Linked DNA regions of Homo sapiens. The protein of the gene in region 2 purifies or fractionates together with the protein of the main gene of each other region. This does not show direct contact. Each region holds a gene or a part of one and is shown on either strand. Other genes may lie near its edges.

Evidence for each region.
Region 1: the proteins of POLR3B (region 2) and GPN3 purify together in Homo sapiens (affinity purification with mass spectrometry; 5 studies listed by BioGRID and IntAct, with this or other methods). This does not show direct contact.

The regions. Positions count from the first base shown.
Region 1 is NC_000012.12:110,465,258-110,473,158, reverse strand, and holds the start of GPN3 (GPN-loop GTPase 3), read left to right. Parts: upstream 1-4,955; coding exon 4,956-5,003; coding exon of another isoform or gene 5,004-5,033; intron 5,034-7,901. Other genes in the region: protein FAM216A, read right to left, coding at 41-81, 4,141-4,283. UniProt on the Homo sapiens protein: Small GTPase required for proper localization of RNA polymerase II (RNAPII). May act at an RNAP assembly step prior to nuclear import.
Region 2 is NC_000012.12:106,360,740-106,367,761, forward strand, and holds part of POLR3B (DNA-directed RNA polymerase III subunit RPC2), read left to right. Parts: intron 1-3,130; coding exon 3,131-3,163; intron 3,164-5,776; coding exon 5,777-5,833; intron 5,834-5,918; coding exon 5,919-5,983; intron 5,984-7,022. UniProt on the Homo sapiens protein: Catalytic core component of RNA polymerase III (Pol III), a DNA-dependent RNA polymerase which synthesizes small non-coding RNAs using the four ribonucleoside triphosphates as substrates.

The DNA of each region.
Region 1 (7,901 bases), 4.1 Mb from region 2:
GTTACTTATAAGTATTATCTGCTTTATATGCACTACTCACCAGAACCTTTGGAATTCTGGTAACAAGAGTATCCAGCTGATCTGTTGAAAAAATAAAGCATATAAATAATATGTAATAATTACAATGTTACAAGCACTGAACAACATATTTCAATTTTTTTTTTTTTTTTTTTTTTTTTTTTTGAGACAGGGTCTCACTTTGTCACCCAGGCTGGAGTGCAGTGGCATGATCTCAGGTCATTGGAACCTCTGCCTCCCAGTTTCAAGTGATTCTCCCACCTCAGCCTCCCAGGTAGCTGGGACTAGCGCTGCTACACCCAGCTAATTTTTGTATTTTTAGTACAGACGGTTTCACCATATTGGCCAGGCTGGTCTCAAACTCCTGACCTCAGATGATCTGCCTGCCTCAGCCTCCCAAAGTGATGGGATTAAAGGTGTGAGCCACTGCACCCAACCAACATATTTCAAATTTTAAAAAAGGATAGTGTTGCATATTATTTTTACTTTTCATGTTTCCATCAGAAATAATGTCTTACAAATTTTTTCCTATAATTCTGGTTAAATCCTAATGGCTCCAAGATTTTTTTCTTTCCTTTTTTAGAGATGGGGTCTCCCTCCTTCACCCAGGCTAGAGTGCAGTGTCGTGATCATAGCCCACCGCAGCCTCAAAATCCTGGGCTCAAACGATCCTCAGCCACCAAGTAGCCAGGACCACCAAAACGCCTGGCTAATTTTTGTACAGATGTGAGCCACCATGCCTATCCTGGGTCTTAATTTTATAGCTTCCTAATCTCATTCCTACAGTGAGCTCAATAAAGTAGTTGGGGCTCCTGGGCTATCCATGTGATTATCTTGCTGTCTTTATTTTTAATGAAGTGATTTGGGTATTGAAAAGACTGTTCTTTTTTTTTTTTCTTTTTTCTTTTTTGAGGTAGAGTCTTGCTCTGTTGCCCAGGCTGGAGTGCAATGGCGTGATCTCCGTTCACTGCAACCTCCGCCTTCCAGGTCCAAGCAATTCTCCCACTTCAGCCTCCCGGTAGCTGGGATTACAGGTGCCCGCCACCACGCCCGGCTAATTTTTCCATCTTTAGTACAGACAAGGTTTCGCCATGTTGGCCAGGCCGGTCTCAAACTCCTGACCTCAACTGATTCGCCCGCCTCAGCCTCCCAAAGTGCTGGGATTACAGGTGTGAGCCACCACGCCATGCCGAAAGACTGTTCTTTGAATAGTAATTAAGGTGTGCTAGAACTAATAAGTTGGTCTGTAATGTTTCTAATTTCGTACAAATTCTTTTTCTTTTCTAAACTTAAGACAAAACAACTGATCCTCATCCTGCAATTTATTCAATGACCAAGAGTTCATGGGCCAGGCGCCAAGTTTATAAAGTTTTTGTTATGAACTTTTCACCGCCGCTTCCTTTGCTATTTTATTCCAAGCCACCATATCGTTTTCTTGTATTCCAACTTCTTAATTCTACGCTTGCTCCTTCTAGTTTATTCTCCAACTAGCAACCAGCGTGATCCTTTTTAAGTAAAGTAAGATCACATCACTTCTCTGCTGGCAACCCTCCTGTGTCTTCCTTTCTCAAAGGTTGACTTTATAAGGTATGAGGGAGTTTTGAAGGAGTGATAGAGCTGCTCTGTATCTTTAGTGTGGCAGTGCTTACATAGCCATGTGCATTTGTCAAAACCCATCATATTATACATGAAAAAGTAAGACTTTAATTTGTGTAAATTATGCCTCAATAAACCTGACTTTAAAGAAAAAAAGTGCTGGGCACGGTAGCTCCCGCCTGTAATCCAGCACTCTGGGAGGCCGAGGCGGGTGGATCACGAGGTCAGGAAATCGAGACCATCCTGGCTAACATGGTGAAACCCCGTTCTCTACTAAAAATGCAAAAACTTAGCCAGGCGTAGTGGCACGTGCCTGTAGTCCCAGCTACTCAGGAGGCAGGAGAATCGCTTGAACCTGGGAGGCGGAGGTTGCAGTGAGCCAAGATCACACCACTGCACTCCAGCCTGGGTGACAGAGCGAGACTCCATCTCAAAAAAAAAGAAGAAAAAAAGTAAGGAGTTCCGGAGTTCCCATTAGTTAATAATGGGATTTTTGGCAGATCACTTCCCCTTTCAGATTAGTAAATATGACCGGAATTGATGATTTTTAAGACCCCTGCCAGTGCCAACATTGTATCATGTAGCATAATAAACCTGATTCTAGTTTGAAAATTTTATTTTGTATTTCTGGGAATATAAGCTTTTCATAAATTAGTCTTGGTTTGTGTTTTTTAATGGGGTTCCTTAAACCAAACTGAAGGGCATACTGTCTTTTTTTTTAATTGTAGTTTTAAGAGTTTGGATAAACTAAAGGAAGCATGGAGATGAACGACAGGCGGAGATAAAAGGAAAGGACAAACAACCTCTTTGTGCCTGTTTTGTCATCCATAAAGTGGGGATCATAATAGAACCTTCCAGGATTACAGGCTCATGCCCATCTCTACTAAAAATACAAAAATTAGCCAGGTACGTGGTGGCGCACACCTGTAGTCCCAGCTACTTGGGAGGCTGAGGCAGGAGAATTGCTTGAACACAGGAGGCGGAGGTTGCAGTTAGCTGAGATCGTGACACTGCACTCCAGCCTGGGTGACAGAGGGAGACTCTGTCTCAATAAAAAAAAAAAAAAAAATTCACGTATCTCCTGATACACCAGGATCCTGCAGTCGGCCAAGGACTGTGAAGAACAGAAAAGAAACCCAAGACTCCATCCCATCTTTAAGAAGTCTTCAGTAGCACCAGAGACAAAAAGGACGGCCATGCGGGCGGATCACGAGGTCAGGAGATCGAGACCATCCTGGCTAACACGGTGAAGCCCCGTCTCTACTAAAAATACAAAAAAGTAGCCGGGCGTGGTGGCAGGCGCTTGTAATCCCAGCTACTCCAGAGGCTGAGGGAGGAGAATGGCGTGAACCCGGGAGGCGGAGCTTGCAGTGAGCTGAGATGGCACCACTGCACTCCAGCCTGGGCAACAGAACGAGACTCTGTCTCAAAAAAAAAAAAACAAAAAGGATGGCCATGGGTGCAACAGGGGCCCTGACTGCGGGTTGTACTGAACGGCAAACATATCGCAGTTCTTGCTTTTAGGGAATAAAGTAGGGAGAGGAAGAGGAGGTAGAGTCTCCAGCAGTGACTTCAACAGCTCGCTGTCTTCACTATCTAGGAAATAGGTGTAAAAACCTGCTCAAAACGAAATAGATTTGTGAAAAAAGGAACTTCAGTGTGAAGAAAATGTCAAGATCAAGGCACCTCGGATATTCAGTCATTGGTCTCATTGGCGATTAGAAATCCTCGTTTGAGGTCGGGCGCAATGGTTCACCCCGTAATCCCAGCAATTTGGGAGGCCGAGGCGGGCGGCTCACTTGAGGTCAGGGGTTCGACACAAGCCTAGCCAACATGGTGAAACCACCTCTCTACTAAAAATACAAAAATTAGCCGGGCGTGGTGGCAGGCGCCTGTAATCCCAGCTACTCGGGAGGCTGAGGCAGGAGAATCACTTGAACCTGGGAGGCTGAGGTTGCAGTGAGCTGAGATCGCACCACCGCATTCCAGCCTAGGCAACAGAGCGAGACTGTCTCGCTCTCAAAAAACAAGAAAGAAAAGAAAAAAAAAGAAAAAGAAATCCCCGTTTGACAGGAAGGTGGCTCATGTCACTAGAGGGAAGGAACTGGTTTATGGGCCTGGATGCCCCCAGTTGAACCGGGGGACATCTTCCTCCTCTGTCCCTCCCGCCTCGCCTTTCGGTGGACACACAGTCCTGTGCCAGACAGCAAACGTCCCAGCAGGGCTCGCAGCGCCCCCTCGGGGCAGAGAGATGCACGCGGGCGACTGTCGCAGTCACCTCGTGGCCACTGCACCAAACGCTCCTCCGAAGCTTCCCTCAGAGACCCTCCCTCAACCGCGAGGCAGTCCTCCCCTCTGCCCTCTGTCCACAACAAAACTGCTCCCCGCCTCTCACTTGAGGGCACCGGGGCCAGCCCCCGAGACGAGAGGTCGGCCGCAGCCCTCCTCCACGGGGCTCACGACCCGGGGGCCTCACGACCCGGGGGCCCCATGCTGCCACCCTTACCCCGGGGCCCCCAACCTCACCCGCCGCCGCCACCCTCGGTCCCGGCCACAGCGGGCGGCTCTGCAGAAGAGCTACGCTCCGTCCAGTCGGACCCCGGACCCTGGCCGGGCATCTCCGCGGCGCCGAGACCGCGAGCCGTGTGCGGGAGCAGCTGTCCCAGCATCCCTCCCCCGACAGCACGCGTGCGTCAGGCTGCTGGTATTCCGGAGAGGCGGCTCGGATGCTGGCTTCTCGCCCCTCCGAAGCCGTTCGGACACTGCCCGAACAGCTTCGGGAGAGCGGGGCGGGCAGATCCGCGACCCCGGAGTTACGGTGGGGGAGGGGCAGGAGCGCTGCGGTCGCTGAGCGTTTGCACGTTTGCACCTCTCTGTGGAAGCAGTGCGTCACAGGAGGGAAATATACATGCTCCCCAAAACAAGAGGTGCCTTCCACTTCAGTATTCCAGATCCTCAGCACATTTGCAAATCGCGAGGGTCACCATACAGGTCAAACGTCTGCACGCAAACCACGGACCGAAGCACGTGGCGCAAGGATGCGGAGCTTTATCTGTTGTCCGTTATTACTCAGGTATCCAAGCTTAGACAGCATCCCAACGGCCGATTTCCATCAACTACTTTTGCGCACGCGCAAATCCTCTCCCTCGCCCCTCCCCTTTTTTCTCAGGACGCGTTTCTCACGGGATTTGGCCCGCGGGCTGCCCCGTAGTAGGAGGTGTGGTAGAACTGGAGGCGTAGAAAGAATGTGGATTGCGATTGGTTCGCACTTCACTTTCCCGGAGCTCAGTGGGCGTCGCGCGAAGGCTAAGGGAGTGTGGCGGGCGGCTCCGGGAGCCAACATGCCTCGGTATGCGCAGCTGGTCATGGGCCCCGCGGGCAGCGGGAAGGTGAGGATCTGCGGGGACAAGGAGAGAAAAGTAGGAGTTCGTGGAAGGCGGGAGATTGGGTCCTGAGGGAGTGAGCCGGCGGGTGTGTGTACTGGGAACCCTGAGACCCCACGCAACTCATTTCTGCTGTCTGGCTTCACGTTCTTTTTTGTTGTTGTTTTGAAAGGGAAATAATGGTAGTTGTTAATATTTATTGTATACTTAAGCCCCAGGCAGCAGATGAAACGCCTCGCTTATTTCTACAACAACCCTGTGAGAGAGATCTCATTTTTCTCATTTTACAGAAAACGAGATACAGAAAGGTTAATTAAGTTCTTTGCCCCGCAAAAAAATATAAATCCAGTTTTGTCTCAACTCCAGAATCCGGCCCTGTCTCGCTCCCAGGAGGGTAAAGTGGGGTCTCATTAATTACTGTTTCTCAGAACTTGGGACATGGACTTTTGGTATTTAAGGTGCTTTTAGGTGGTAGGTGGTACATGGACCCCACATTAAGGAGCATCAGATAATGTGTTAGGGAAATTGTTCCCTTTTCATTTCTCTTTCAGTTCTCAACTTCGCATTTAGGAGAAGTTGTGCTCGGTGCTAGTGTGTATCTTCAGCACTTCTTTAATCCCCAGGTCTTTTCAGAGAGCAGTTCTTAGTCTCAGAGCTTTTAATAGGCACCTGTATTTAGCTAAAAATAGAACATTTAAAGATTTTATATAATTTTATGTCTAATTTCACGTTATGTCAAATATAAGTGGTTTTCAGTTTACAGTAGGGATAAAATTTTTTCTTGTAAACAAATATTAAGGGAATGTTAGGAACATTCAAATACAGTGAGAATGGTGAAGATATGGATCAAATAACATATGTGTGGGAAACATAGCCAGGCGTGGTGGCTCACGTCTGTAATCCTATCACTTTGGGAGATGGAGGTGGACGGATCGCCTGAGCCCAGGAGTTTGGGACCAGCCTTGGCAACACGGCGAAACTCTGTCTCTACAAAAAAATGCAAAAATTAGCCAGGCCTGGTGGCAGGTACCTCTAGTCCCAGCTTCTCGGGAAGCTGAAGTGGGAGGATTACCTGAACCCAGGAGGTTGAGGCTGTGGTGAGTGGTGATCGTGCCACTGCACTCCAGCCTGGGTGACAGAGGTACTGTCGCAAAAAAAAAAAAGAAGAAGTGTGGAAACACTAGAGTCTGTGGAGGTGTTGTGTGGCCTCAGTCTTTAACAAACACATTGTTCTAAGCTGTTGACTTATTCTGGGTAAAAACATGTACATGTAACTAAGATACCTATGGCCTTTAACTTACCCAGAGTCTGTAGTCTTTTGGGGAAGACAAATAGATGACCTGTCAATTAAGATACAGTGTGATGTGGCCAGGTGTGGTGGCTTAAGCCTGTAATCCTCGCACTTTGGGAGGCTGAGGCCAGCAGATCACTTGAGCCCAGGAGTTCAGGGTCAGCCTGGGCACCATGGTGAAGCCCTGTCTCTACCAAAAATACAAAAATTAGCTGGGCATGGTGGCGAGAGCCTATAGTCCCACCTACTCGGGGGGCTAAGGCTGGAGAATCGCTTGAGCCTGGGTCAAAGCTGCAGTGAGCTATGATGGTGCCACTGCACTCCAGCCTGGGTGACAGTGAGACCCTTTGCAAAAAAAAAAAAGATACAGTGTGTGATGTATGGAGAGGGCATTCCAGACAGAGACAACAGTATGTGTAAAGGCACTGAGAGGACAGCATGATGGATGTTTTTTCTATAGTCTATTTTAATTTTTGGGCTGATTGTATTAAACAAGTATCTTTATAAGCTTTTGATGCTTACTATCAGAAACATTCCTTGAGTACGTTCTTTATCCCAGGCACTGTTTTGGGCCCTGGGGGTTGTATGGGGAAAAAAACATGCACACACAAAATCCGTGCCCTTGTGGAGCTTATCTTTAAACATAATAAGTCAATTAGAAACAATTATCAAGTATTTATTATGTACTAGGTATTGCGCTAGTCCCTGTGCTTGGGAAACTGAATAAGACACATCTCTGCCTTTAAACAGAGTATGACACAGACAAGTAGCCTAGAGACTTTTTTTTTTTTTTGAGCCAGGAGTCTTGTTCTGTCATCCAGGCTAGAGTGCAGTGGTGTGATCTCAGCTCACTGCGACCTCTGCCTCCCGGGTTCAAGCGATTCTCCTGCCTCAGCCTCCTGAGTATCTGAGATTACAGGCATACGCCACCACGCCCAGCTAATTTTTGTATTTTTAGTAGAGACGAGGTTTCACCATGTCGGCCAGGCTGGTCTCCAACTCCTGACCTCAGGTGATCCGTCGACCTCAGCCTCCCAAAGTACTGGGATTACAGGTGTGAGCCACTGCACCCAGCCCGAGATGTTAACATAGTACGGTAACAACTACATAATGGATAAAGAATTATCTAAACCAAAAGTTACAAACTGATAGCCACCTCCAGACTATTTATTGATCTTGGCGTTCTTTCATCTTGGAATGCTCTTCCCCTTAGGTTGGCAAACTCCTTCTCATATACTCATATCTCCCCTACTCAGAGACATCATCCCTGACCATCCTACCTAAAGCTTTGTTTGCACTGTACAAGTCCTGGTAGAGACACTGTGTTAGGTGTTACACTATGTAACCAGAACTCTTCCCTTTAAATACCGCTTGTCACATTTAGAACAGTAAGGAGCCTTAGTGATTATGGAGGACATCCCAGTTAGAGACACGAAAATTGAAGGGCAGAGTGGAGAAGTAAATTCCCCAGAGGTACCCATGAGTCTAAGTCAGGTTTGAATCTGCAGCCCAGTCAGGTATCTTTTTCCCTTGTTGTCAGTCAGCCTCTTGGTTGATGAAGGCATAGTTTTGACCTTAGTGGATAGTATTCCAGAGTATGGAAGGTAGCACTA
Region 2 (7,022 bases):
TTTGTCAGTGTTACTGAGTACTTACCTGGTGGTGTATTATTCACAGGGTTTATACAAGTTCAAAAAATGTGTTTTCTGCCTCCCAGTGTGTTATAGGCTTATAGAGAGAGACGTGTAAGCAAGTGGAATAACATGCAATAGGTACTGTGATACAAGTAGGCGAGGGGTATTTTGGTATTACAAATGGTAGCTAGGATGTGATGCCTGAACTGAGTTTGCCAGATGTGGATGAAGTGTGGTGGTGCGGAAGCATTCCAGATAGAAGGAGGAGGCGTAGGCACAAGTACAGCTGCAAGCACAGCATATGATGTATGCCTCGCTGTGGAGTTAAGACATGGTGAAGAGGGTGGGGAGGCACTGAAGAGTTGTAGAGAATGAGGTGCTCAGCTGTGCACATGAGGACATGTACACTGGCTTTAGTGCTGAGCATTGAAAGGGACGAGCAGGAAGAGTAGTAAGGAAGTATTGCCGCAGACCAGCTGAAAGATTATGAGGGCCTCAACTGGCACAGGAGCAGAGGATAAATGCGAGGAAGGTTAAAAGGAGGTCGACTCAGTAGAATTTTTGTTTTCCTGTTGATTAAGAAGAGTCAGAAAGTTAGGACTCCCGGGTATCTAATTTGGGATTGACTGGGATAAATGGTGATATTCATTGAGATTGAGAATGGAGCTGGGGGAAGATTTAATTTTGGACATACTGATCTTAAGTAGCCTCTGAGGCTGTAAGGTATCACTGCCCAGTCAATAGTTGGAGGGGACAGGCCCATACCCAGTAGCTTACTGCAACAGTGATATTCACTCACTCATTTATTTATTCAGTATTTATTGGAGTCTTTTATGTGCCAGGCACTGTGGTAACAGGATAGACAGGGTCACTGCCCTTGAAAGAGCCCACATTTGGAACTGGGGGGCTGTGGGATGAGATGGGGGAAGCTAAACAACACTTTCAAACAGTGTTGTTTGAAATCCTCCATTCCCAGCCCTACTTGAGAAAAGACATCGCCAGGGATAGAACTTTGAAGAACACCAAAATTTGCAGGGTGGCAGAGAAAAAGAGGTGTGACAAGGCCCGGCCGGAGGAAGGAAAGACATAAGAGAATGATACCACAGAGTGTTATAAGACAGTGATCGGCATGGCCAAATACTGTGGAAAGGGAATGTGAGGGGGCATCAAGGGAGGTCTTTTGAAGTAGCAGCCTTGGTGACCTCTGTCGAGCTCTTTCACTGGCAGGTAGGTCAGAGTCCTGACTATAACGGAATGAAGGAGTGGGAAGTGAGGAACAGAGAAGCTAAATATGGAGTAATTTGGGAGAGATCGTAAGCTGAAGGGCAGGGAAGAAAGTAGTCAGAGGAGCTGCTGAGTCAAGAAAGTTTTAAATTTTTTTTTTAATGGGAGGATTTGAATACTCGTTTTAAATAGAACAGGTTGAATATCAAGGACTGAACTGGGGCAAGGTTTCCAGTCTTCAGGAGAAGGTTGGCAGGATTGTGTCTGTGGCGGAAGGGTTAGCCTTAGACCAAGGAATGGATGGTCCTTCCTTTGAAGTGGGAGGAAACGAGTATAAGAAGGGGTGTAGAGAGAGGAATTTGAAGATGTGGGAGTATTAGCTCATAGGGCTGCCGTAACAAAGTAACCACAAACTAGGTGGCTTAAACAACAGAAATTTGTTTTCTCATAGTTCTGGAAGTTAGAAGTCTGAGATCAGGGTGACAACAGAGCTGGCTCCTTCTGAGGGCTATGAGAGAGGATCTGCTCTGGGCCGTCCCCTACTACAGGTGTTTGCTGGCAATCTTTGGCATCCCTTGGCTTGCAGAAGCTTCACTGAGACCTCTACCTTCATCTTCACATGGCATTGTCCCTGTGTGCATCTCTATGTCCAATTTCTCCTTTTTTATAAGGACACCAGTTGTATTGGATTAGGGCTCACCTTAATGACTCATTTTACTTAATCACCTTTGTCAAGACCCCATCTTCAAAAACAGTCACATTCTGAGATACTGGGGATTAGGACTTTAGCATATGAATTTTGAGAGGGACACAATTCAACCTATATCATTGTCATTCTTCTATTTTTAAATTTAGGTGTAATTTATATAATAAAATGTATGGATACTAGATATTCAGTTACATTGGTTTTATAGTTATGTGCTCTATGTGGACATTGCATCACCCCAGAAAGTTCCCTTATGACCCTTTTCAGTCTATCCCCCCAAGCACCTTTTGATTTCCGTCATCATAGATTAGCTTTGCCTGCCTCTCTTGTTTTTGACTATACCCAGGGGTCTGCCACCTTCCCTGGCCACTCCTCGGTCTCCTTTGCTGGAGCTGCCTCCTGCTCCTCCTCTCTGATTGTTGGATTATTCTTGGTTGGTCTCACTTTGTGGAACTCTTCTCCATCTACATTCCATAGGTGATCTCATCCATCACGTGCCTTTAATTGCCATCCACTTGTTAATCTCTTCCTAGTTTATATCTCCAGGCCACTCCATTCCCGAATTCAAGACTCATTTGTTGCCTCCTTGACATTTCCACCTGAATGTCTAATGGAGATCTCAAGCTTAACACACCCAAACCAAATTTCTAGTAGCCCCTCCACACCTAAACCTGCTATTCCTACAATGTTCCTCGCCTCCATCAATTTTAACTCTATCCCTCTAGTTGCTCAGGCAATGTAGGAAGCAATCACCATATGTGTCATCCTTCTGTAGCCCTGAGATGAGCTCTGACCAGACAGTAGTTGAGAGAGAATGGGAGGGAGAAAGAACTCCCTTTGGGTCTTGAGACCCAGCTCTCCCACCAGACTCTCTGAGCCTTATTTTCCTTTTCTCAAACTGGCAAACTTCACTTAGGAAGTGTCATGAGAATAAAATAAAGGATTGAAAAGTGCTTAAAATCTTGAGTCATCAGGAAGAGATTAAGTTATATTCTGTTTAGGAAACCTGTAGTGTATGTATGTATGTGTATACATATTTATATGCATATGCACACATGTGATTTCCATAAAAATGTTTAAAAATTATTCTTTTTGTTTTGATTTACTTTCCTTTGCTTATTTTGGAACATTAAAATAACTTATGAAAGTACTGTTGCTGGTACAGAGTTCTGATATTCTTCTTGTTTTGGCTCACAGGAAAAATGGAGGCTGCTTCCAGCATTTTTAAAGGTAATTGTTTCACATTTAATAATAATTGGTTATTTTTCAGATGAAAAAGTCAAGAAATAAGCCATTTTTTAAAGATTAAATTTTTGTCATCAACATTTTTTGATTTTGTATAGCTGTGTTTGGAAATACAAGGAATTATAAGGTAAAATCCCTGCCTGAAAGGTGCTGGTTTGGAGAGTGGTAGTCTAATTTTAGAGAGAAGTAGTAGTACATGCACAGTAGCATGGCACATGATTAAAAACCAAAGTGCTATCAGCAAAAGAGCAATGGTCAGAGAGGGCCACCCAAATGAAGTGAGACATAAACCACATCTTAAGAGAAGAAGGTTTAAGCCTGAAAGCTGGGTGCAGAGAGCGTGGCTCAATCAAGGTGTTCAAGAGGAGCCTCCACAGAGTCTGCAGGAAATAGCGACCAGTCAAGAGGAGCTGCTGAATATGATATGATGTGGTGTCGGGCTTCAATTCAATTTCCAAGAGCTTATGCTAAGAAGTAATGAGTACCACAGTGAGAGACCACTTGGCACCCGCTAGGATAGCTATAATCAAAATCAAATGTTAATAAGGGTGTGGAGGAATGGGAACTATCATGCTCCACTGGTGGGAACGTAAAGTGTTATAGCCACTTTGGAAAACAGGCTGTCAGTTTCTCAAATGGTTAAACAAAAAGTTACCACATCCTCCAGCAATTCCACTCCTAGATATCTGTCCAAGAGACATGAAAACATGTGTCCATGCAGAAACCTGTACACAAATGCTCATAGCAGTATTATTCATAATAGCCAAGAGTGGAAACAACCCAAATGGCCATCAGCTGCTGGATGGATACACAAAATGGGATGTATCTGTGCAACAGAGTATTATTTGGCAATAAAAAGAAAGCAGGTACCCGCTGCAACATGGACGAATCTTGAAAGCATTGTGCTAAGTGAAAGAATGGAGACTTGAAAAATGAGGCCGGGCGCGGTGGCTCACGCCTGTAATCCCAGCACCTGGGGAGGCTGAGGTGGGCGGATCACGAGGTCAGGAGTTTGAGACCACCCTGGCCAACATAGTGAAACCTCGTCTCTACTAAAGATACAAAAAATTAGCTGGGTGTGGTGGCGGGCCCCTGTAATCCCAGCTACTTGGGAGGATAAGGCAGGAGAATAGCTTGAACCTGGGAGGCAGAGGTTGCAGTGAGCCGAGATCGCGCCACTGCACTGCAGCCTGGTCGACAGTGTGAGATTCCGTCTCAAAAAAAGAAAAATGAGTAGAGTTTTGTCTCTACTCATTTTGGACTCTACTCTAGAGTTCAGTTGCGTGTTATGGGCAGAGGGGAGAGTGCTGGGAAACGAGGCTGGGAGTTGTCAGGGCCAGTTTCCTGATCAGATTTGAAAGCCGTGTTAAGGATTTGGCTTTTCTTCTAAAAGCCGTAGGAAGCTATTGAGGAGTTTCTAAGTTGGGGAGTGACCAAGAATCAAATAAAATGGTCGTAAGGTCAAGAAGTTTCTTTTTCCCCCTAAGAGACCAGGTCTTGCTACATTGCCCAGGCTGGATTTGAACTCCTGAGTTTGAGTGATTCTCCTGCCTCTGCCTCCCGAGTAGCTGTGACTGTAGGAATGTGACACCTTGCCTGGCCTTTTTGTTATTTTTTAAAAGGAGCTGCACATAAATGGAGAAGAAGGTGCTGGGTGCTGGGCACAGTGGCTCACGCTTGTAATCCCAGCACTTTGGGAGGCCAAGACAGGCGGATCATTTGAGGTTGGGAGTTTGAGACCGACTAGCCTGGCCAACATGGTGTAACCCCGTTTCTACTAAAAATACAAAAATTAGCTGGGCATGGTGGCGGGCACCTGTAATCCCAGCTACTCAGAAGGCTGAGGCACCTGAACTGCTTGATGCAGGGAGGCGGACGTTGCAGTGAGCCGAGATCGCACCACTGTACTCCAGCCTGGGCAATAGAGCGAGACTCTGTCTCAAAAAAAAAAAAAAATTTTTTTTTTGTTAAAAACTAAGATACAAATACACACATTAGCCCGGGCCAGAATCATCAATATCACTGTCTTCCATCTCCATGCCTTGTCCCACTGGAGGGTCTTCATGGACAGTAACACACATGGAGCTGTCATCTTCTATGATAACAATACCTTCTTCTAGAATACTTGCTGAAGGACCTGCCGGAGGCTCTTCTTGAGGAGGGGTCATTCTTTTCAGAAATACACTCTATGAAATCAAATCAAGTTGTAAGTCATTAGGCGATAGGAATTTTTCAGCTCCATTATAATCTTATGGGACTGCTGTCAGATATGTGGTCTGTAGTTGAATGAAATGTTGTTATGTGGCACATGACCATATATTCATGTACTCATATTTTGATTTCCGAGAGTCAGATTGCTTCTCAAGGAGGAAAACTCTCGAGGATATGCTAGTAAGACGATGCAGAAATGGAATGAGAATGCATTAATGAAAAGATTTATTAAATAAAATTCATGGATTATTTTTCTCATTTTGATTTTGATAAAAATTTGATGTTCACCTATTATTAGATTCCATTATATGATCTATTATTTGAGCATATCATCAGTACTCTTTGCACTTTTGCTAACCTGTTTACTTTCTCTTTCTATCTGTTTAGGTGAAAGGCCTTGTGAAACAGCATATAGATTCATTTAACTATTTCATTAATGTAGAGGTAAGCATCAGATGTTAGAAATAGACATAAACTAAGGATTAATTGGAAGCCAGAGTCTTTGCTAATGTTGCATTTTCCACTGCAGATAAAGAAGATAATGAAAGCCAATGAAAAGGTTACAAGTGACGCTGACCCTATGTGGTACTTAAAGTAAGGAACCAACATTCTTAATTTGCTATGTGGGTTACATCTAACATTTTTTAAAGTGAGTGAAGTTGCTATCAAAACTCTTTTAAAATCATTGTCTTGGCCAGGCTCGGTGGCTTATGCCTGTAATACCAAGCACTTTGGGAGGCCGAGGTGGGCAAATCACCTGGGGTCAAGAGTTCGAGACCAGCCTGGCCAACATGGTGAAACCCTGTCTCTACTAAAAATACAAAATTAGCCAGGCGTGGTGGTGCACATCTGTAATTCCAGATACTCAGGAGGCTGAGGCAGGAGAATCGCTTGAATCTGGGACGGGGAGATTTCAGTGAGCTGAGATTGTGCCACTGCACTCTATCTTTTACAGCAGAGTGAGACTCTGACTCAAAAAAATAAAAAATGAAAAAATAAATCATTGTCTTTTATTAACTATAAAGTGCTCAAATTAAATTTTTAACTGGCAAATTATAATGAGCTATGGTTGGGAAAATTTTGAAACTATTAGGTTTTAAATATTTAAATTTTTATTTTGAAATAATGTTAAGCTTAAAAGAAAAATTGCAAAAGTAGTACAAAGAATTCTTCAATATTTTTCACCAAGCCTTCACTGATATTAACATCTTACATAACCATAGCACAATGATCAAAACCAGGAAGTTAGCACAGATACGATGTTGTCTACTAATCTGTAGACCTTATTTGATGTTTTCTCACAAATGTCCTTTTTCTGGTGTAGGAATCAATCCAGAGCTCCGTGTTATGTTTAGTTGTCTTGTATCCTTAGTCTCCTCAATCTTTCTTGGTCTTTCATGACATTGACACTTTTGAACAATCTAGTCAGTATTTGTAGAAGTTCCTTTAATTTGAGTTTGTATGACGTCTGATTGGGTTATACATTTTTGGCAAGAATACCACAGAAGCAATGTTTTATGCTGTTCTCACTGATTCGTATTGGGGTTACAGATGCCAATATATTTTATTACTAATGATTTTAACTTTGTTCACTTGATTAAGGTAGGATCTTCCAGATTTCTCCACTGAAAGG